Homo sapiens: one gene and its partners. The protein of the gene in region 1 purifies or fractionates together with the protein of each later gene. This does not show direct contact. Each region holds a gene or a part of one and is shown in the gene's direction. Other genes may lie near its edges. The genes, in order: PFAS, ITM2C, SGK1, PPAT, BZW2, EIF4H and PPP6R3.

What was found.
Region 2: the proteins of PFAS (region 1) and ITM2C purify together in Homo sapiens (co-immunoprecipitation; one large-scale study listed by IntAct). This does not show direct contact.
Region 3: the proteins of PFAS (region 1) and SGK1 purify together in Homo sapiens (co-immunoprecipitation; one large-scale study listed by IntAct). This does not show direct contact.
Region 4: the proteins of PFAS (region 1) and PPAT fractionate together in Homo sapiens (co-fractionation; one large-scale study listed by BioGRID). This does not show direct contact.
Region 5: the proteins of PFAS (region 1) and BZW2 fractionate together in Homo sapiens (co-fractionation; one large-scale study listed by BioGRID). This does not show direct contact.
Region 6: the proteins of PFAS (region 1) and EIF4H fractionate together in Homo sapiens (co-fractionation; one large-scale study listed by BioGRID). This does not show direct contact.
Region 7: the proteins of PFAS (region 1) and PPP6R3 fractionate together in Homo sapiens (co-fractionation; one large-scale study listed by BioGRID). This does not show direct contact.

The regions. Positions count from the first base shown.
Region 1 is NC_000017.11:8,266,289-8,268,637, forward strand, and holds part of PFAS (phosphoribosylformylglycinamidine synthase), read left to right. Parts: coding exon 1-65; intron 66-212; coding exon of another isoform or gene 213-235; exon of another isoform or gene 236-464; coding exon 465-610; coding exon of another isoform or gene 611-622; exon of another isoform or gene 623-739; coding exon 740-947; intron 948-1,083; coding exon 1,084-1,175; intron 1,176-1,262; coding exon 1,263-1,377; intron 1,378-2,244; coding exon 2,245-2,349. UniProt on the Homo sapiens protein: Phosphoribosylformylglycinamidine synthase involved in the purines biosynthetic pathway. Catalyzes the ATP-dependent conversion of formylglycinamide ribonucleotide (FGAR) and glutamine to yield formylglycinamidine ribonucleotide (FGAM) and glutamate.
Region 2 is NC_000002.12:230,877,345-230,879,748, forward strand, and holds the end of ITM2C (integral membrane protein 2C), read left to right. Parts: intron 1-55; coding exon 56-206; intron 207-663; coding exon 664-755; 3' UTR 756-1,904; downstream 1,905-2,404. UniProt on the Homo sapiens protein: Negative regulator of amyloid-beta peptide production. May inhibit the processing of APP by blocking its access to alpha- and beta-secretase.
Region 3 is NC_000006.12:134,168,756-134,171,934, reverse strand, and holds the end of SGK1 (serine/threonine-protein kinase Sgk1), read left to right. Parts: intron 1-202; coding exon 203-298; intron 299-756; coding exon 757-912; intron 913-1,019; coding exon 1,020-1,109; intron 1,110-1,499; coding exon 1,500-1,667; 3' UTR 1,668-2,679; downstream 2,680-3,179. UniProt on the Homo sapiens protein: Serine/threonine-protein kinase which is involved in the regulation of a wide variety of ion channels, membrane transporters, cellular enzymes, transcription factors, neuronal excitability, cell growth, proliferation, survival, migration and apoptosis.
Region 4 is NC_000004.12:56,397,616-56,401,115, reverse strand, and holds part of PPAT (amidophosphoribosyltransferase), read left to right. Parts: intron 1-204; coding exon 205-332; intron 333-1,715; coding exon 1,716-1,937; intron 1,938-3,500. UniProt on the Homo sapiens protein: Catalyzes the formation of phosphoribosylamine from phosphoribosylpyrophosphate (PRPP) and glutamine.
Region 5 is NC_000007.14:16,701,681-16,705,180, forward strand, and holds part of BZW2 (eIF5-mimic protein 1), read left to right. Parts: intron 1-2,866; coding exon 2,867-2,989; intron 2,990-3,500. UniProt on the Homo sapiens protein: Translation initiation regulator which represses non-AUG initiated translation and repeat-associated non-AUG (RAN) initiated translation by acting as a competitive inhibitor of eukaryotic translation initiation factor 5 (EIF5) function.
Region 6 is NC_000007.14:74,173,054-74,177,155, forward strand, and holds the start of EIF4H (eukaryotic translation initiation factor 4H), read left to right. Parts: upstream 1-1,302; 5' UTR 1,303-1,330; coding exon 1,331-1,389; intron 1,390-4,102. UniProt on the Homo sapiens protein: Stimulates the RNA helicase activity of EIF4A in the translation initiation complex. Binds weakly mRNA.
Region 7 is NC_000011.10:68,568,752-68,572,251, forward strand, and holds part of PPP6R3 (serine/threonine-protein phosphatase 6 regulatory subunit 3), read left to right. Parts: intron 1-996; coding exon 997-1,146; intron 1,147-2,288; coding exon 2,289-2,353; intron 2,354-3,500.

The DNA.
Region 1 (2,349 bases):
GCTGGAGATGGCCTTTGCTGGAAATTGCGGGCTACAGGTGGATGTGCCTGTCCCCAGGGTTGATGGTAAGGAACCTGGGGTCTAGTCTCAGGCCCGGGCTGCCTTCTCTACCCTGCAGACCCCATTTCCAATATATTAAAGAGTGGAGTGCCCTCCAGTCCCCTTTCCCTGAGTCTTCCCTGACTAGCTTTTCTGTGCTGTCTCTCTGACAGCTGAACTGGATGGAACTGGCTGACACCCACCATGTTCCTGACTGCACCCCTCTGAGACTTCCCATCCCTGAGATGTCCATGATGAAACATCCTCAGTCCTGCCGTCCTAGCCCTCATCCTCCCTGATCCCTACCCTACTCTCTGGCTGCATCCCTCTGACCCTCACCCTGGCCCTTCCTGCATTTCCCTGATCCCGCCCCAACTCCCTTGGCCCTTCTTGCATCCCCCTGACTCCCCACATTGCTCTCCCAGTCCTGTCTGTGCTGTTCGCTGAGGAGCCAGGCCTCGTGCTGGAGGTGCAGGAGCCAGACCTGGCCCAGGTGCTGAAGCGTTACCGGGATGCTGGCCTCCATTGCCTGGAGCTGGGCCACACAGGCGAGGCCGGGCCCCACGCCATGGTGAGGAAGTGAGGGAGAGAGCGGTGTGCAGTGGGCAGTCAGAGTGGGGTGGCCGCGGTCCATCCCTCTCCCACTGTGGAGGGGGCCATCCTTTCTCCTAGCCCGTGGGAGATTTGTTCCTCTTCCTAGGTCCGGGTGTCAGTGAACGGGGCTGTGGTTCTGGAGGAGCCTGTTGGGGAGCTGCGAGCCCTCTGGGAGGAGACGAGTTTCCAGCTGGACCGGCTACAGGCAGAGCCTCGCTGTGTGGCAGAGGAGGAACGGGGCCTGAGGGAGCGGATGGGGCCCAGCTATTGCCTGCCCCCCACCTTTCCCAAAGCCTCCGTGCCCCGTGAGCCTGGTGAGGGAGTGTGTGCAGAGGCTCCGCGTCCTGGGGGCACTGAGCCTGGATGCCTGGGCCTGCCCTCAGAAAGGTGTCTGGGGAGTTGGGGTGGGGAAGTGACTTTCTGGCCCAAAGACACTTATTCTCCCCCAAGGTGGTCCCAGCCCCCGAGTCGCCATCTTGCGAGAGGAGGGCAGTAATGGAGACCGGGAGATGGCCGATGCCTTCCACTTAGCTGGGTTTGAGGTGAGCAGGGTAGGGGGCAGCTGGGGGTGATTGTCCAGCCTCAGCTGCGTGTCCTCCCACCCACACTCCCCCTCCCCACCTTCGCAGGTATGGGACGTGACCATGCAGGACCTCTGCTCTGGGGCAATTGGGCTGGACACTTTCCGTGGCGTGGCCTTCGTGGGCGGCTTCAGCTATGCAGATGTCCTGGGCTCTGCCAAAGGTCAGTGTGCAGGCTTCTGCCCACTCCCTTCCCCCACATTCCTGAAGAGGTGCCTTTAGCCCCATCTTCCTGGGCTGGGGATTGGCCTCTCACTCCACCGAGCTACGAGAGAGTGGGCCCATTCGTTCTGGGCCACATGCCAACAGAAGGCTGGTAGTAAATTTTTAATTTTTTCATTGAAAAAAAGTATATATATACACATATGTAATTAAAATATATATTATTAAATATATATTATTTATATATATTATTTATATATTATTAAAATGTATATTATTTATATATTATTAAAATATATATTATTTATATATATTATTTATATATTATTAAAATATATTATTTATATATATTATTTATATATTATTAAAATATGTATATTTTTAAATATATATATATATATATATGTATTTTTTGAGACGGAGTTTCACCCTTGTTGCCCAGGCTGGAGTGCAATGGCGCAATCTTGGCTCACCGCAACCTCCACCTCCTGGGTTCAAGCGATTTTCCTGCCTCATCCTCCCAAGTAGCTGGGATTACAGGCATGCAAAAATACAAAAATTAGCCAGGCGTGCTGGCGGGCGCCTGTAATCCCAGCTACTTGGGAGGCTGAGGCAGGAGAATCGCTTGAACCCAGGAGGCAGAGGTTGTAGTGAGCCGAGATCATGCCACTGTACTCCAGCCTGGGTGACAGAATGAGATTCCATCTCAAAAAAAAAAAAAAAAGAAAGAAGGAAAGGAAGGAAGGAGGGAGGGAGGGAAAAGGAAGAAAGAAAAAAGAAAAGAAACAGAGCAGTTATGCCCCTTCATTCCCAATTCCCTTTTTTGAGGTCCTCCATGTCTCACCCTGACTTCCCTATTCCCTGCTAGGGTGGGCAGCTGCTGTGACCTTTCATCCCAGGGCTGGGGCTGAGCTGAGGCGCTTCCGGAAGCGGCCAGACACCTTCAGCCTGGGCGTGTGTAATGGCTGTCAAC
Region 2 (2,404 bases), on another chromosome or scaffold:
GGTTGGACGAAAGCCTGAGGGGCCGACTCACTGTGGCGGCCACCTTGTTTTGCAGAGGGGGACCTACCTGCCGCAGACGTACATCATCCAGGAGGAGATGGTGGTCACGGAGCATGTCAGTGACAAGGAGGCCCTGGGGTCCTTCATCTACCACCTGTGCAACGGGAAAGACACCTACCGGCTCCGGCGCCGGGCAACGCGGAGGCGTGAGTGGCTGGCTTCACCCACAGTAGCCCCTGTCCCGTGCCCCAGACCACAGTTATCTTCACGCCTAGCCCAGCTGTCAGAGAGCTCAGATAGCAGCAGCAATAACAGCTAGCATTAGCAGAGCACTTCCGTGTGCCGGGCAATGCTGTGTGCTCTTTATGACCTCTTAAGAGTGTAAGTCATTCTCATCCTCATTATTATTTTTGCTGCCCATTTTAAAGATGAGGAAACAGGTGCAGAGAGGTTAACACCCTGGAGGTCACACAGCAGGGAGGTGGCAGACATGGGCAGGCTGACTCCAGCTTTCGAGCTCTCCCCATTTCTCACTGTGCTCTTTGGGTGAATCTGGGTGAATGGTGTCACTTCCTGGCCCTCCTGTGGCTCAGGCTGAGGCTGGTGGTCTTTGTGACTCAGCCAGGATGCAGGGCTCACTGGGGTTTTTCTTTTTCCTCCCAGGGATCAACAAGCGTGGGGCCAAGAACTGCAATGCCATCCGCCACTTCGAGAACACCTTCGTGGTGGAGACGCTCATCTGCGGGGTGGTGTGAGGCCCTCCTCCCCCAGAACCCCCTGCCGTGTTCCTCTTTTCTTCTTTCCGGCTGCTCTCTGGCCCTCCTCCTTCCCCCTGCTTAGCTTGTACTTTGGACGCGTTTCTATAGAGGTGACATGTCTCTCCATTCCTCTCCAACCCTGCCCACCTCCCTGTACCAGAGCTGTGATCTCTCGGTGGGGGGCCCATCTCTGCTGACCTGGGTGTGGCGGAGGGAGAGGCGATGCTGCAAAGTGTTTTCTGTGTCCCACTGTCTTGAAGCTGGGCCTGCCAAAGCCTGGGCCCACAGCTGCACCGGCAGCCCAAGGGGAAGGACCGGTTGGGGGAGCCGGGCATGTGAGGCCCTGGGCAAGGGGATGGGGCTGTGGGGGCGGGGCGGCATGGGCTTCAGAAGTATCTGCACAATTAGAAAAGTCCTCAGAAGCTTTTTCTTGGAGGGTACACTTTCTTCACTGTCCCTATTCCTAGACCTGGGGCTTGAGCTGAGGATGGGACGATGTGCCCAGGGAGGGACCCACCAGAGCACAAGAGAAGGTGGCTACCTGGGGGTGTCCCAGGGACTCTGTCAGTGCCTTCAGCCCACCAGCAGGAGCTTGGAGTTTGGGGAGTGGGGATGAGTCCGTCAAGCACAACTGTTCTCTGAGTGGAACCAAAGAAGCAAGGAGCTAGGACCCCCAGTCCTGCCCCCCAGGAGCACAAGCAGGGTCCCCTCAGTCAAGGCAGTGGGATGGGCGGCTGAGGAACGGGGCAGGCAAGGTCACTGCTCAGTCACGTCCACGGGGGACGAGCCGTGGGTTCTGCTGAGTAGGTGGAGCTCATTGCTTTCTCCAAGCTTGGAACTGTTTTGAAAGATAACACAGAGGGAAAGGGAGAGCCACCTGGTACTTGTCCACCCTGCCTCCTCTGTTCTGAAATTCCATCCCCCTCAGCTTAGGGGAATGCACCTTTTTCCCTTTCCTTCTCACTTTTGCATGTTTTTACTGATCATTCGATATGCTAACCGTTCTCAGCCCTGAGCCTTGGAGAGGAGGGCTGTAACGCCTTCAGTCAGTCTCTGGGGATGAAACTCTTAAATGCTTTGTATATTTTCTCAATTAGATCTCTTTTCAGAAGTGTCTATAGAACAATAAAAATCTTTTACTTCTGACCTTGACTTGAGTGTGGCTGGAGGGGAGATGGGTGTAGGAGGGGTGCTCCGGGCAGGGTCGAGGAGCTGGACCTCGGGAGCAGCAGGCAGGGAGAAGCCTGCAGACCTTGACATCTGGCCCCTAAAGAGCTGGGCATCCTGGATTCAGCCAAGGAGTGTAGGATATCCCCTTCGTAGCACCCTGGATCTGAGCCAGGTAGAGTTCACACTTTCCGGGTGAGGAGGGGAACAGGGCTGGGAGAGCTTACCGACTCGCCCAAGGTCGTGCTGCTTTAAGTGCCTGTAAACCACCCTGTAATGTTCTACCTGGCAGATGACATCATTATTGCATGTCCTTAAGCACAAGGGCGGTGTCCTATTCTCCACCACGTCTGGACAATTTGTAACCATTCCTGGAGGATCTGAAGTGAGGTTTGGTGTGATAATCACAGGGTCACATTCTCCAGAGAATTCTGGAAGCGGCAGGAGAGCTGGCCAGAGCCATGTCTAGGTGGACCCCA
Region 3 (3,179 bases), on another chromosome or scaffold:
TGCCCAGCAGTTTCCTAAATGTCAGTACACATAGGTAGCCAGTCACCCTCAAAAAGTCCAGCAGTTTTATCAGGAAGGAATCTAAAGATATCTATCTTCCAAGCTGGCTCTGGGTCTCTCAGCTTTTTCAAACTAAATGTGTGGTCGTGGGATTGCTTGCTTTCGCAGGTTCTAAACGCTGTTTCCCTGGTCTGTTTTTCAGTATCTCGCACCTGAGGTGCTTCATAAGCAGCCTTATGACAGGACTGTGGACTGGTGGTGCCTGGGAGCTGTCTTGTATGAGATGCTGTATGGCCTGGTGAGTGGCACATTGGGAACCATGGAACACTGCCTGCTCCCTACAATATTGCCTTCACACAGCCCATGCTTGGCCATGGTGTCTTGCCCTTACCAGTACGCTTATCAAAAGCAGCTAAGAGGCATATTGGTTATTTTATAGTTCATAAGAATAATCACTTACCTGGTTCTTTTGTGCATTTCACATTTTACTAGATAGGACCACATTGAACCTGTGTGGTGGTGAAAAACTACCACTTATTAACATCTACCCCCTCACCCTCCACACACACACACACAAACACACACACGGGTTGCAAAGTAGACACTTAAATAGCAAGGGAAAAGAAAGCATTGAGGTGGGGAGAGTTTCTCAAATCGAGCCTAATATTTATTGCCGTTTATATCTTTTTCTCTACTGGTAATGTGTGCCATATGAAACTTCCAATTAAGTCTAAAGTAATTTTCCCCTTCTTTCAGCCGCCTTTTTATAGCCGAAACACAGCTGAAATGTACGACAACATTCTGAACAAGCCTCTCCAGCTGAAACCAAATATTACAAATTCCGCAAGACACCTCCTGGAGGGCCTCCTGCAGAAGGACAGGACAAAGCGGCTCGGGGCCAAGGATGACTTCGTGAGTGATGTTTTCCTGTCCTCCTGGGCCGGCCGGGACGTGCACTAGACCTCCCTGCCCTTATTGAATGCACCTGTCTAAATTAATCTTGGGTTTCTTATCAACAGATGGAGATTAAGAGTCATGTCTTCTTCTCCTTAATTAACTGGGATGATCTCATTAATAAGAAGATTACTCCCCCTTTTAACCCAAATGTGGTGAGTATCTGTCTCTCTTCTAAGTATAGAGAAGCCCAAAGGGCATTTATTTTAATTCAGAATTGTCTGGGGGAGGGTTGGAAGGAATACATTGGCAGATGTTTTCTCCATAAACCTGTTATTTTACCTACATAAAAAGCACATTTTTGTGTCCCAACAAGGCTCCCATAATTTTTAGACACATTTATCAATTCGAAGCACCAAAAGGCAACAAGTGAACATTATTCTTATGTTTAACTGTGTGTAGCCTTTTGAGATTTTGTGCTTGAAGTGGGTGATTATGGAAGTTGATATAAGACTTAAACTTGGTATTTAAAGCCTGGTCAAGATTTCCCTGTCCTGTGTCTAGTGTGAGTTCTTGACAAGAGTGTTTTTCCCTTCCCGTCACAGAGTGGGCCCAACGACCTACGGCACTTTGACCCCGAGTTTACCGAAGAGCCTGTCCCCAACTCCATTGGCAAGTCCCCTGACAGCGTCCTCGTCACAGCCAGCGTCAAGGAAGCTGCCGAGGCTTTCCTAGGCTTTTCCTATGCGCCTCCCACGGACTCTTTCCTCTGAACCCTGTTAGGGCTTGGTTTTAAAGGATTTTATGTGTGTTTCCGAATGTTTTAGTTAGCCTTTTGGTGGAGCCGCCAGCTGACAGGACATCTTACAAGAGAATTTGCACATCTCTGGAAGCTTAGCAATCTTATTGCACACTGTTCGCTGGAAGCTTTTTGAAGAGCACATTCTCCTCAGTGAGCTCATGAGGTTTTCATTTTTATTCTTCCTTCCAACGTGGTGCTATCTCTGAAACGAGCGTTAGAGTGCCGCCTTAGACGGAGGCAGGAGTTTCGTTAGAAAGCGGACGCTGTTCTAAAAAAGGTCTCCTGCAGATCTGTCTGGGCTGTGATGACGAATATTATGAAATGTGCCTTTTCTGAAGAGATTGTGTTAGCTCCAAAGCTTTTCCTATCGCAGTGTTTCAGTTCTTTATTTTCCCTTGTGGATATGCTGTGTGAACCGTCGTGTGAGTGTGGTATGCCTGATCACAGATGGATTTTGTTATAAGCATCAATGTGACACTTGCAGGACACTACAACGTGGGACATTGTTTGTTTCTTCCATATTTGGAAGATAAATTTATGTGTAGACTTTTTTGTAAGATACGGTTAATAACTAAAATTTATTGAAATGGTCTTGCAATGACTCGTATTCAGATGCTTAAAGAAAGCATTGCTGCTACAAATATTTCTATTTTTAGAAAGGGTTTTTATGGACCAATGCCCCAGTTGTCAGTCAGAGCCGTTGGTGTTTTTCATTGTTTAAAATGTCACCTGTAAAATGGGCATTATTTATGTTTTTTTTTTTGCATTCCTGATAATTGTATGTATTGTATAAAGAACGTCTGTACATTGGGTTATAACACTAGTATATTTAAACTTACAGGCTTATTTGTAATGTAAACCACCATTTTAATGTACTGTAATTAACATGGTTATAATACGTACAATCCTTCCCTCATCCCATCACACAACTTTTTTTGTGTGTGATAAACTGATTTTGGTTTGCAATAAAACCTTGAAAAATATTTACATATATTGTGTCATGTGTTATTTTGTATATTTTGGTTAAGGGGGTAATCATGGGTTAGTTTAAAATTGAAAACCATGAAAATCCTGCTGTAATTTCCTGCTTAGTGGTTTGCTCCCAACAGCAGTGGTTTCTGACTCCAGGGGAGTATAGGATGGTCTTAAAGCCAACCTACGTTCCAGGCCTTTTTAGCAGCATTTTATGGTGTCTGTCATTCATAAATCCATCCAAGGAAATCCTTTGCAATTTACTCATCTTGCAAGGATTGCTATGAAGTAATGCTTCCTGTATTTATTGCCTGTCCTGTGAAGTTGGACTATTTGTCCTGACATTTGGCTTGTCTTCAGTTACAGGTAATTCTTTCCAGAAATATTTGAAAGCCTACTCTGGGCTCTATTGCGAGTGCTCAGGATATCGTAGTGGACAAAGCAGACAACTTCGCCCTTCCAGAGCCTGATGAAGAAGGCCGACCTAAAGCAGTTAGTTGAGATGGAAATT
Region 4 (3,500 bases), on another chromosome or scaffold:
TTTCTAGATCTATATGAAGGTCGATTTTTTTTTTAAAACCACACAGTTGAGTTCCCCAGTTTGTGTATTTTCACATTCATATTTTTGTATATATTGCATTTCTTTTTATACTCAATCTGTAGAATTCTAGCACTAGTTTTTTAGAATAACACTGTTATATCATGCTAAGTAAAAATACTCTCTCTCCTTTTCCAAACACACCAGACCAAATGGTTTATACAGTAAGATACCGTTGTGGCCAGCAGCTAGCGATTGAAGCACCTGTGGATGCAGATTTGGTTAGCACTGTTCCAGAATCTGCTACGCCTGCTGCTCTTGCTTACGCAGGAAAGGTATTTTCTCTTAATTAACATGCAGTGAATTGCTCTCCCAGCTGTGGAATAAGAAACCCTTGCCTATAAAGAGAAACTCATCAACATTTCTAAGGAGAAAGGAAGCTTTGGTGGTTAATGTTGGTTTGTTTACAAGCGTTTTTTATTTTCCAGGCTTTTTATCCAATGGCACTATTTTAGTGAAAACCACTAAAAGGTTCACTGAAAAGAAAAAAACGTTCACTAAAGCGTTCAGAAATTGGCACCCTTCTTTTTAAAAAGATAACATCATGAATATACAGTTGACCCTTGAACAATTTGGGAGTTAAAGGTGCCAACCCTCTGCACAGTCAAATCTGTGTATGCATTTTAATGCCCCCAAACTTAAATACTGATAACCTACTGTTGACTGGAAGCCTGACCAATAACATAAACAGTTGATTAACATATTTTGTATATGTATTATATGCTGTATTCTTGCAATAACGTAAGCTAGAGAAAAGTAAATGCTTTGAAGAAAATCATAAGGAGGAGAAAATATATTTACTATTCCTTATGTGAAAGTGGATCTTCATAAAGGTCTTCATCCTCATTGTTGTCTTCACGTTGAGTAGGCTGAGGAGGGAAGAGGAAAAGGGGCTGGACTTGCTGTCCCAGGGGTGGCAGAGATGGAAGAAAACCCACCTATAAGTAGACTCATGTACTTCAAACCCATGGTGTTCATCAACTATATATTCAGTGGAAAAATTTACTTAATATTAAAATAAACGTCTTGAATTATCTTCACAAGTCACTGGAATATTTGCTTGCTACTAAGTATGGGTAATAATAAAGCTGTTTATGTTCATTTAGCATGATGTTGTCAGTGTTACGCTTTATTTTCATAACCAGGTAGATGGTGTAACTGTAGTAATCCTGGGGTATAACATCCAATATTCACTACCTTGGATACTTTATTAACTTCTAAAAGAATTAATATGCATACATTTTAGAAAAGATTACCTTGATAAATGGGTTAATTACTTCCTATCCCTAAAAAGTATCTCATTGGTCTACTGGTTTTTATTTATTTATTTTAATTCATTTCTTTAAAAATTATCATTTTGATAATGAATTTTTCTGACAGTGATTTAATCTTTGTCATGTCTTCATATGCTTACTGTTATCTTTCAAAACAGAGGAATAATGTTTAAGACAAAAACATTATGAGTCCTCACAAAATGAATTGGTTTTTCCACCAAGTATATTTTGTTTAGTGGTTTTTCTTTTTGCCTTTTTTCCAAATAATAAAGGAAAATTATTTTGAAATTTTACTTGAATATTGTGGCGGCAACACAACCTAGAGAAAATATTTGCCTATTCTGTATATTACTCCTCATTATCCTTTCATTTCTTCTCTATCAGTGTGGACTTCCATATGTGGAGGTGCTGTGTAAAAACCGGTATGTAGGGAGAACCTTCATTCAGCCAAACATGAGGTTAAGACAACTTGGTGTTGCAAAAAAATTTGGAGTATTGTCAGACAACTTTAAAGGCAAAAGAATTGTTCTTGTAGATGATTCAATTGTCAGAGGCAATACCATCTCACCTATAATAAAACTGCTCAAAGAATCTGGTGCAAAAGAGGTAAGTAATATTAAAACATATCCTAAAGCATAAGTTAACAATAAGATACTGGCATAAAATTGCAATTCAGGGTAGTGAATCAAAATGGATGTTCAATATAATAAATTAACTTTTTTTATCAGTTTGGTTTAGGAATAACTGTGTAGCAACTTGAAGAACATGTCACAGCCACACTTACATTAAATGTAATCCTTAATAGATTAAAAAAGCTCAATATAAAAGCTTAAGGCTGGGCGAGGTAGCTCATGCCTGTAATCCCAGTACTTTGGGAGCCTGAGGTAGGAGGTTGCTTGAGCCCAGGAGTTCGAGAACAGCCTGGGCAATATAGTGAGACCCTGTCTCTACAAAAATAAAAGATAATAATAAAATTAAATTTTAAAAAACCTAAAATTTTTACAAAATTTATTCAAAGACTAACTACACAAAATAGGCTGGGCACAGTGACTCATGCCTATAATTCCAGCACTTTGGGAGGCTGAGGTGGGCAGATTGCTTGCATCCAGGAGTTCAAGACCAGCCTGGACGACATAGTGAAACTCACCTCTCCTAAAATTACAAAAAATGGGTGGGGCGTGGTGGCACACACCTGTAATTCCAGCTACTTAGGAGGCTGAGGTGGGAGGATGGCTTGAGCCCAGGAGGTAGAGATTGCAGTGAGCCGAAGTGATCTCAAAAAAAAAAAAGTCAAAAACACACAATAGAATGCTTTTTAAAATCAATGGAGTATTGATTGCTTTCTCTACTTGAAGACATGCAGCCAATCCCAGTGTAATACCTTTGACTTATTATTTTTTAAAATGTATTTGTTAAAGACAGTGTCTGGCTCTGTTGCCCAGGCTGGAGTGCTATGGCACCATCTCAACTCACTGCAACCTCTGCTTCTGGGGCTCAAGCAATCCTCCCACCTCAGCCTTCTGAATAGCTGCAACTATAGGCATGTGCCATTGCAGCCAGGCTAATTTTTGTATTTTTAGCAGAGACGGGGTTTCACCATGTTGCCCAGGTTGGTCTTGAGCTCCTGGACTCAGGTGATCCACCTGCCTCGGCCTCTCAAAGTGTTAGGATTACAGACGTGAGCCATCGTGCCCGGCCAAGTTATATTTTAATATCACTTTATGCCTTTTTTTCTTTTTTCCTTGATACTGGGACTCACTGTGTCACCTGGTTGGAATGCAGTGGTTCGATCTCAGCTTACTGCAACCTCCACCTCCTGGGCTCAAGAGATCCTCCCACTTCAGCCTCCCAAATAGCTGGGACCATAGGCACACACCACCATGCCCGGCTGATTTTTCGTATTTTTAGTAGAGGCAGGGTTTCACCATGTTGCCCATGCTGATCTCAAACTCCTGAGCTCAGGCCATCTGCCTGCCTCAGCCTCCCAAAGTGCTTGATTACAGGTGTGAGCCACCATACCCGGCCTCACTTTATGTCTTGAAAAAAATTTTTTTTTAATTTTTATTTTTTAAATTGACAAATGTATATATTTATTGTGTACATGTTTTTATATAGATATATTAAGTTATTTTAAGATTTCAAAGCTTATTCTATTTCAGTAGCTCATAC
Region 5 (3,500 bases), on another chromosome or scaffold:
AAATTGAGAAATATTTATTTTTTCTCATCAAGTTAACAAATTTATTCCTTAAACGTGTGTTGAATCGATACTATAGGGCAGGTCTTTCATTAAATGCTGGAAATGAGATGAACAAAATATAGTCCCTGACTTCCTGAATTTCAGGATGTAGAAGAAAACAAAGAATTACACTCACCATGTCAATTGCTGAAATAAGCCTCACACAGAGGGTGTCAGAAGGGATAGGACCACAGAGGGAGGGCACCTAACTTGTTAAAGGTAATTTGGAGGGGGAGAAGTGAAGGCTCTCAAGGTACATGTATCTCACCAGACATTATGAAGAAGTTGGCCAGATAGAAGGGGAAAACATATATTCCAGTCTCTATGTGCCATCATACAATGTCTTCCTTTCTTACTGTCTTTTACTGTTATTCTATATTCCTAATAGGCATTTATGAAATATCCCACCAAAAATGGTTTCTCAGTTTTAATTAACTCTTTTCCCTACTTTATCCTTAGTGAGGGAAAAAATTGTCTGAATTCTTTGTCCCTCAAGGAGTTCCTTCCTTTTCAGACCTTTCCTTTCACTAAATAGAAGTTTAATTTCTTCTTAAACTCTTCGATGTTCATACTTTGCCTCATATGGTGCTCTGTGTAGATACTTCAGTAGCTTTTAATTAATAATTCTCTGGTACTAGAAGTTTGATCTTTCAGCAAGTAGTTGTTACTACCCTGGGTTCTTCTAAGAACTCCACATTGCGCCGTTAATATGTAGACTTATTTTAAATTCTCCTTCCTATTCTTAACATTAAATATTCTCAATTAATGGTAACTTAAGAATATCAAGGCACAAGATTTGCAATAAACAATGCATTTGATAGGTTTTACCTATCATTTAGTGTGCTTTTCACAAGCACTGACATTGACAAGCATTTTAGTAGTTGCATGGTCTCCTTCAGCCTCTGTGAGGCAATAAAACACAGGAATGTGCTCTCAACCTTCAAAAGGAAAGCTCAGACAAATAGTATCACTAAACTGCAGTCTACATCAGCTTTCCAACCTGTACTTTGTATCATCCTCAATTCATTAAGGTGTGGAGAAAAAAAACAATTCTCCTTTCCATGTTTGTCACAGTTTAAAATTATATTGTTTGTGCAGAACATTAATAATGATAGTTTAATAGTGCATGAATATAATTTATAAACTCAAAAATATACATATGTTGGGTGTATATGCTCAAAATTATCCTACAGGCAGGAAGACATGATCCAAACAGTTTGATAATTACTGATCTAATCATAAGCATCTTAAAGATAATTTACAAGTTATATAAAAGGGTCTTTTAAAATCCCTGTTAATGTTCTTTAAAAGTCTCTGCAAGGCAGTCTTACACAATAACAGGTCACTTCCTCGGGACACAACTGCCTGCTCCTCAGCTCTATGACAATTAGGCTCTGATGGCTGGTAGAAATTTCTTTTATCTCAGTGGAGAGCTGGAAACAAAGAGCTAAAATAACTAGAAGCTAAGAATAAGTCTACAGGACCCCTGATTGTAGCTCTTACATCCAGGCTCTATAAGTAAATCCAGACTTCTTGCTTCCTTTGCAAAATGTAATGTTTTTAGTGATGATAATAAACATGTTTTTTTAAAAAACCTTTTATTTTCATAAACAAATCATGTTCATTTTAGTCAGCTCAGCCTCTTCAATTTAATTCAAGAACATTTTCCAAGAGCCAATAATTCTTTAAAAATAAAAAAAGCCAATGTTTTTGTTATGAAACTACCAGTGATGTTTTAAATGAAAACAATATTAAATTGTTTCTGTCATTTTCATAAGTTGAAATTATATTTTAACTGAAAAGATATCATTAAAGTAATTTATTAACATTATATGGCTTTATCAGTATTTGTAATGAATTGAGCACATCTCGGGGACAATAATAAATGCTTTGTACCTGTTTTCTGTCTCGTTTCCCACTACAGATTCCCAAACAACAACCCATTAGAACATTGGAACATTAGAAGAATGTTAGAACAACCCATTAGAACATTGGGAGACTATGTACACTTATTTTTATATTCTCCTTCCTATTCTTAACATTAAATACTCTCAATTAATGTTATGTTGAGAATATCAAGGCACATTTGTGGAATTTAGAGTTTTAGACAAAAGATAGTTAACATTTTTTGTTGTTTTTAGAAACCTGTAGGAAATTAGCTAATATGTCTATTTTGTCTTAATGTAGTAGAGGAAAAATATTACTCTTGTAATTTGGGATATACTGTGGGAAAATAAGTCGTGATTTAGTGATGGAGAAAGTGTAGAACTTCAGTTTAGGTGTGTATTACTCCCACAACATAGCCCAGAAGTTCCTCTTTATATCTAATTGCTAACATCATTATTGCATACTATCTACATTTTTTTCCTTTGTCATTTTTCTCCTAAAAAAAGAAAATCCCAATCTCCTTAAAAGACACTGGTCATTTGAGGTTACTCTTTAATCAAGATATGGTTGAACTTGGCAGGACCCAAAATGTTCTAAAATGCTGGAATTGCTGGTTCATTTGCAAAATTACAAAACAATTCTATTTCCTACCAGCAAATTAGCACTGTGAGAGATTTCCAAGTCCTAGTAGTGAGCTATAGGCTTGCATTATATCATGCCTAAGAAGATGTATATCATCATCATCAGTACTTAAGCCTTTAGTAAGCTATCAAAATATGGCACTATGCTACATGAAAATCAACTTGGTTCCTCTCTTCTGATAAGTAACAGAATGCTTTATATTTAAAATGATTGCTTTCTATTAAACTGTAATACATGAAGTTGTTTTGAAACATGACATTTGTATAGTAACTTTGAAATCTTTGATTTAAAATTGCAGCTGATGTTCTGAGCGAAGAAGCAATACTGAAATGGTATAAGGAAGCACATGTTGCTAAAGGCAAAAGTGTTTTTCTTGACCAGATGAAGAAATTTGTTGAGTGGTTACAAAATGCAGAAGAAGGTATGATTCTGTTTACAAACATTGATGACCTTTAAACACTGTCTCATTATATGTCAAAATATTTACCTCTTCCACAGATTTTACTTGATTTTCTAAAACTAAAATTCTAGAGTTATCTTTCGTATCAAACATTTTGCCAACATCTTAGCTTTCCTTTCTGAAATCACGGCAATAAAAATCTCTACATGTAAAAACAAAGAAAGAAATGAAATGCTTAAATTATCCACTCTGATGGAGGACAATAAGGAAGAAATGATTAGTAGATGTGAAAGGAGAAAAATACATTTAGCTTAATCACGCATTATGGAATTCTATAGATTTTTATGACACCTTTACCAATTAACTGGCAATTTTAAATAATGGAAATATAAAGTGGAAGGATAATAATGAGTAAGAGTGAATTCAGGCCAGGTGTGGTGGCTCACACCTGTAATCCCAGCACTTTGGGAAGCAGAGGTGGGTGGATCACCTGAGGTCAGGAGTTTGAGAGCAGGCTGGCCAACATAGTGAA
Region 6 (4,102 bases), on another chromosome or scaffold:
GTTCAAGACCAGCCTGGGCAACATGGTGAAACGCTGTCTCTACTAAAAATACAAAAATTAACTGGGTGTGGTGGTGCACGTCTGTCACCCCAGTTACTCGGGAGACAGAGGCAGGAGAATTGCTTGAACCGAGGAGGTGGAGGTTGCAGTGAGATGAGATTGCGCCACTGCACTCCAACCTGATTCTCCATCTCAAAAAAAAAAAAAAAAAAATGCAAATTAGGCGAGGTACTGCCCGCCTATAGTCCTAGCTACTCCAGAGGCTAAGGCGGCAGGATGGCATGAGCCCAAGAGGTCAAGGCTGCCGTGAGCTACCACTGTTCCACCGCAGTCCAGCCTGGGCGACAGAGCGAGACCCTGTCTCAACAACGAACCAATAAATACATAATAAAAAGTAATGGTTAAGCGGAAGATACCTAGGTACACATCACAACAAAATTCTATGAGGTTCTTTCAAAGTGTGCTTAGATAATTAAGGTTTGTCAACATCGTGGCATCCACAATTACTACCATCTCAATCACAAACCTGGAAATTTACCCGTGTAATTAATTCCCACTGCATAACCATGTTTTGTTATTGCTAGATGATGGAATCCACAACAGTATCCAATTCTTTTTCCAAGGCAACGACTTCTGCAAAAAACCGAGATGTGCAGTCTCTCTTGCTAAGTCACCGATCACCTATACTCTCTCCTCTCAAAACCCCCCAATACCCAGGCAGCGAGTAAGCCCTGGAAGGCAGGATTCGTGTCTGCATCCCACCGCCTCGCACCCCCTTCCGGGGCATCCTCATCGTGTGGCCAGCTCCTGCCTGGAGAAGGAGGTGGCCTTTACTTGGGTGTCACCCGGGGACCACTTGGGGGTCCAAGCGGGACAGGCCTCCGAGGTCCCCGCCATGTATGGAGGCCGAAAGGCAGCGTCCCAGGCGAACTGGAGAGGGAGTTCCCCCCAGCTCTCCAGGTCACCTCCCGCCGACGGACGGAAAGGCCGGCGCGCACGGGCGTGGTGCGGCGGGGATAGGAGGCAGCCACGGGCGCACCCCAGGGCCAGCACATAATGGGCCGCGTAGGCCGGGCAGGCGTCCAGCTGGGACGCCGCCGCACCACGTGGGCTGCAGAGCGCACGGGGCAGGCAGCTGCCGGTGGGCCCAGGGCCGGGCGCTGCGCGGCCAGCGTCCGTGCGTGCGTGCGCGCGCGCGCGTGCGCGTGCCTGCGTCCAAGGGATTTGCGATCAGGCGGCGCGGCGGACAGCCCCGGCGGCGGGGCGGGGGGAGTTATATTGCGGGGTCCTTCCTCGCTCACCCTGGTTCCTCTCGGAGCGGAGACGGCAAATGGCGGACTTCGACACCTACGACGATCGGGCCTACAGCAGCTTCGGCGGCGGCAGAGGGTGAGGCGGGCGTGCGCGGGCCCCGTCGGGGGCTGCGGGACCGGCGGAGTCGGGGCCGTCAGGGTGGCGGCCGTCCTGCGCTCAGCCGGGGCGGCGGGAGGCGGGGGCCCGCGGAGGCCTAGGAGCGGCGCCTGGAGGGCCGGGGCCTGGAAATGGCGCGCTCGGAGACGGGGCGGCGGCGGCTGGGCTCCCGGGGTCTTGCTTGCGGGGCGGATCCCTTCCACTGCCTCCCGCCAACGACAACGTGTTGGTTTTTGCCCTGCCTTGGCCGCGGCGGCGCCGATGCCCGGAGACGAGCGCCCGCTTCCAGCCCCATCCCCCCTACGGTAGGACCAGTGCGGGGCTGAGCTGTGGCGCTGGGGTACGGGCCACACGGCCTGCCCCGCTCCGGTCCCGGCCTCTTTCGCGGCCCTCTGTTGCCTGCCCGCCTTGCAGGCCCCTGGCCCCTTCGCCACGAGGCCGGCCGACTGGGGAAGGTCGGCAGCCAAGAGGGGCGATTCCCTTCCCCTTACGTGTGAGGCAGGGATTTGGCGGCTCTGGCCCGGGGATGGTACGACTCCTTGCGGGCGGGGGGAGACCAAGGAGATAAATCCATCGTAGCTTCTTTGTATTAATCTTTCTTGGGTCACAGTGCCTTGACAGGTGCTACGTGCTCTTTGGCACAATTTCATTTCTCCTTGGTTTCTCGCTCTGATCTGGAGAAGGAACCGCATTTAGCGTCGTCCTGATTGTTGTCAAATGCAGACAACTATGTATAATTGAAACACTTTGCTTAAAAGAAACATCTTTGAATAGAGAGCTCATGGTGTTTAATTCCAGGACTCTGCACTTTTTTTTATTTTATTTTTTAAATACAAGTTGCCTCGTTAGAATATAGGCTATGAACATCTTGCTGTTTGTCAAGGACACACTTGGGCTTTGTGTTTTCTTGCAGAAAGGATTACTTTCCCAGGATAACACCACAATAATACACACTGAGGTGTTCAGTCTCCTGGGTTGCAGTCCAAAAGTATCTTTGTTTGGTAAAGAATGATCACTTTTAATACCTTGGTTTGGGAACGGCTCAGACAAAAGCTTGTTTCGGGGCAGGAGTGTAGCTAATGTTCATGATACTGTAACGTGGAAGTGTGCCGGTGTAGGTGGAGCTATTGTCATTCCAAAGAACATTTTATTTGCTAATAAAAAAAGAAGTAAATGTTGGATGACATGAAATTATCGCCTTTGGGTTAGGTTTCTAAACATCAAATTTGTTCTCAAGTCATTTCGAAATTTAATAACTAGGGTTTTTTTTTTTTTCCTAGTTCCAAAAAACGTTCACAGAAGTACCCAGAAAAATTCTTCTTAAACAGCGTGGTCAATTTAAGTTTTAGTTGCATTGGGACTACAATAAGGTGACCTTATTAAACTGAGTGTGGGGATTTAAAAAAATTTCCTTCAGACACATTTGCCAGCTCTTCTGGTGTCAAATTTTGACATTTGGGGGTGCCAGGAACAATCAGAAGTAAAATTCTATTAAGATGCTATTAATTTCAAATCTCCACAGCAGATGAAAATATTAGCCATTTGCCCCAGGTGTACTCCAAAAACTGATAGGAGAGTTTCCTAGGTAGCACTGTGCATCACTTGAACTTCCTAATAGAAAGTCTCTTTACTGTTAAGCATCTTCTATGTCTCACTTACTTGGAATTTTCTATTTGGCTTCATATTAATGTGAAACTACATAAAGTATTGCTACTTTCAGAAGTAGTTTTAAAAACTTGTTGGTGAATTTACATATTCATTTATACATGTGTATTCTTTTTTTTTTTTTTTGAGATGGAGTTTCACTCTTGTTGCCCAAGCTGGAGTGCAATGGTGTGATCTCGGCTCACTGCAACCTCCACCTCCCGGGTTTAAGCGATTCTCCTGCCTCAGCCTCCCAAAGTGCTGGGATTACAGGCATTAGCCACCGCGCCCGGCCTCAATTATTTTAATTATGTCCACATGAACAAATGTCACTGCTTTACAATGCTTAAGCATCATAGAAGATTGCCACCTATGGAAAGCAGTTTTAACACTGCATTGTTTGGTACTTGTGTAGGCACCTTCTCCCTTGTCTAAAATGCCTCAGACAGGCTCGTACATCTCACCTCTGAATTACTTGGGTCACAGGTGAAAGAAATGGTAGGCCTAAAATGAACAGTTATCATCATAAAACATAGTTTGGTAGTTATACATCTTCCTAAGTTTATTTCGTAGTTGTGTTTAATAACCAGTGCAGTTGTCAGGAAACAGTATTGAACCACTGCTTTTTTCCCCCGAGCCTGTAAGGGCATGTCCCCAGCAGCCAGGGAGAGAACCAGGGACTGCATTGTTCAGCAAGCAAATCAAAACAAAATTCCAAATGATCAAGAGTTGATTGTACCAGATCTTGAATGGACTTTGTTTTGCAGTTTGCTAAATTATCTTTTTGAGGTTCCAGTTTCTCATCTACCATTGGCAGTAAAGTGCAGAGTAATACTGATTTTATATTTCTAATTGCAACAAAGCTATGAGTGCTTAGTGGAAAACCACCGATCCTGAGAATTAGGGTGGAAATTGGAGGTGGCAAGAATTGAGGTGGCTGAAATGGTGCCATCTAAAAACTGGCAAAACTCCAAATTTATTCTTTATCAGGATTCAGTTAGGGAGTTTAGAATTCTTTTTTAAATAGAGATGGGTTTCACTATGTTGC
Region 7 (3,500 bases), on another chromosome or scaffold:
ATCAAAATGAAATTCTTACAATTTTTTTTTTTTTTTGAGATGGAGTCTGGCTCAGTCGCCCAGGCTGGAGTGCAGTGATCTTGGCTCACTGCAAGCTCCGCCTCCTGGGTTCACGCCATTCTCCTGCCTCAGCCTCCTGAGTAGCTGGGGCCACAGGCGCCCGCCACCACACCCAGCGATTTTTTTGTATTTTTAGTAGAGACGGGGTTTCACCGTGTTAGGATGGTCTTGATCTCCTGACCTCGTGATCCGCCCGCCTCGGCCTCCCAGAGTGCAGAGATTACAGGCATGAGCCACCACGCCTGGCCTCTTATAAATTTTTTTGAAAATTATAGAAAATTTACCACGCTAACTATTTGTGTTAGTTGCTTTGAAGAGAAAAAAGATACTCCCTTTCTCTTGGAGAAACGTACTCTTGTCTTTGTATGTTTGTTGTTGGTTTTTTACTAGATTCCATACCAGTTCTGGCATGTCAGATAAGCAGATAGCACGCCATTTAGGCTCTAAAGCAATACTTCACATCCCCATTTAGTCCTCGTTATTTATGAGGGATACCTTCCAAGACTCCTTTGGATGCCTGAAACCACAGCTATCGAACCCTATATATACTATGTGTTTTTCCTATACATACCTGTGACAAAGTTTAATTTATAAATTAAGCACAGGAAGAGATTAATAATAACTAATAATAAAGTAGAACAATTATAAATCTATACTGTAATGAATGTTATGTGAATGTCATCTCTTGGATTAGCATGTCTTACTGTATTATACTCACCTATTTTCAGATCATGGTTGACTGTGGGTAACTGAAACCACAGAAAATGAAACTGTGGTTATGCAAGTACTAATGTGAACTCAGGTTCCTTTTAATTGGTCCTTTTGGACTGAGAGCACATCATTTTTACTTTATTAAATCACTGTTCTGTAAATGTATTTAAGTATTGGCTTAAACATTGAGGTAACCGAATAAAACATGGTTTTTCTTTTTTGTAGAACATGTTCTTCAAGTATACATGGAATAACTTTTTGCATACACAAGTGGAAATTTGTATTGCACTGATTCTTGCAAGTCCTTTTGAAAACACAGAAAATGCCACAATTACCGATCAAGACTCCACTGGTGATAATTTGTTATTAAAACATGTAAGCTTATTTGGTCTCGTTTTTCTCCCACTCTCTCCTGGTTATAGCAGTTTTCCACTTGACTGTGATGTGAATTGAGGTTTAAAGGGCTTGAGGTTAGATTTCAGAGTCTAAATATTTGACAATCATGTGTTCGTTTCACTTTTAACATATAAATCATTATATAAATCAAGTACTGGACAAATAACTATTAAATGAACAGTCTTGTAAGAAAAAAGCTAAGTGGCCTCCTTATTTGGTAAAATTAATAGGTTTGAAGATATATAAATTCTTTGATGATTTGAAGAATCATAGAAATTTAAATACTATGGAAAACATTTGCACTATTATTTGGCTGACCAGAGTGTAGTTTCTTTGCTGAATACGTGACTGAAAGTCAGGAGAACTGAGTTCTTTGTGATGTTGAGAGTCTTCCTGGGGTCTCTTTTTCTCTTCTGTCAAATATGAGATAATTTTACTAAGTCAGTCTTCAGATTTTTTCTTGCTTGGTAGTTCTATGGTACTTTTAAAATTTCTAGCCCACACTTGGTTTACTCGCAAACCTAAAATGTAGAAAAGGCTAGCTTGGAACAGCCAAGTTGATGGGAAAGACAAATGACACCTGAGAAGAACTAGCCCTGCACATTCCAGTATTGCAGCCTACAGCAGTTGTCACTGACTTGCAGACTTTGGGCAAAACCCACCTGTTTTTAATATTAATGCAGTAATGTTAGTTCATCTGGAAGTAAGACGTGCTCACATTTTAAAAGTACAAGCATTACTTTGGATTCTAAGTTAAATTTTTGCCAAGGCATAGTTTTCTTTATTCCATTTTAATTTAGCTCAGGTTTTATATTTCTGTTCTGAATTTTCACAGCTAATAAAACCTGGCTTTCCTTTATAGTTAACTATAGGTAGTTAACTGCACTACCTATAATACTGAGTTTCCTGTAGATGTTCTGTGGAGGGTGTGGATCCTGATTTGAATCTCTGTAGTGTTGTGGGTGTCTGCAGTAGATTGATGATCACATTGCATTTGGCTTAGTAACATTTAGCTTGCTAGATTATGCATACTACTATTCTCTTTAACCTAGAGTTCTGTTTCACTTTAAAGTTTTGATGCTTTGAAGTATTAACTGGAATATTCTTTTTTTTTTTTTCAGCTTTTCCAAAAATGTCAATTAATAGAACGAATACTTGAAGCCTGGGAAATGAATGAGAAGAAACAGTAAGTAAATTGTTTTTTTGAAAGGAATTCAGTTTGGTTGGTAATATGAGGAAAATAATACCTCCTTGCCCTAGTCAGAAAAAAATGGAAATAATTACATGATACTGGCCATTTTACAATTTAAACTTTTCCCCAGATTATTTCATTGTAACAGTTGTTTTTATAATACTAATAATTTCTTGTTAGGTCCTCTTGTTTTTGGGGCAAAACAAGTGAGTTCGGAGTGTTCCCCACCTCTGTGCTGCCTTTGAAACTTCCTGGTCCTTTTTGAATGGCTACTGTTCTAAGAGTTATAAGGTTAAAGTTAAGTCCTTGATGATGTGACTTAGTGTATTTGTCCTGGTCACCTTATGCTCAGAACAGAAGGTATCACGTACATATTTTCATTGTAGAGAAGAGTTGCTTTGTACAGGGACCTAGAGGAAAAAAATTGCTCAGTGTTTTCTTTTTAGAAAATGTTTGTTAGCTGATTGGCAAGGTTATGTGAAGTATTAGTTGATACATGTAAGTAGCTTTGTTACACAAAACGTTTTCTTACAGGTGTTGTCTGTAACAGCATTCCTCTCTAGTGCCCTGGAAGCCTTTATGTCACCCCGTAGATTCTGAAGCATGGTGGCATAAGGGCGTGTTTGGGAAACACTCTGAAGGCATGCTTCTGTGTTTGTTTTTAAGACAGGTTTATTGAGATATAATTCTCATATGGTAAAGCTCATTTTAGGTGTACATTCCTAGGAATTCTGACTGATGCCTGAAGTCACCATCACCACAATCAAGACATTTCTGTCACCCCCAAAATTTCTCTCATGGTCCTTTGTAGTTGATCATTTCCCAGCATTCTTGTTATGTGTCTCTGTGTCTCCAGGAAAGCTAGATGACTCTTGGGAGTCAGCCTTACTTTGTGAGGTTTGATTTTTTTTTTTTAAATCGTTTAATAAGCACTGCTACTAGGGTTTTGATTTGGCTTCATGTGGGAAATTGGCATTTTGTTTGTTTGTTTGTGGCAAGGGGCTAGTATTGGTAGACCTCAGATACATTCTTCCAAATGGAGCTCTTTGGAGATGCTGTTTGTGGCCCAGTTGACATCTCTGGTTATATGTCTGACTCCGTCTTGGCTTCTCTGTGTCCTTCCCAACCTCCAGTCTTCTTG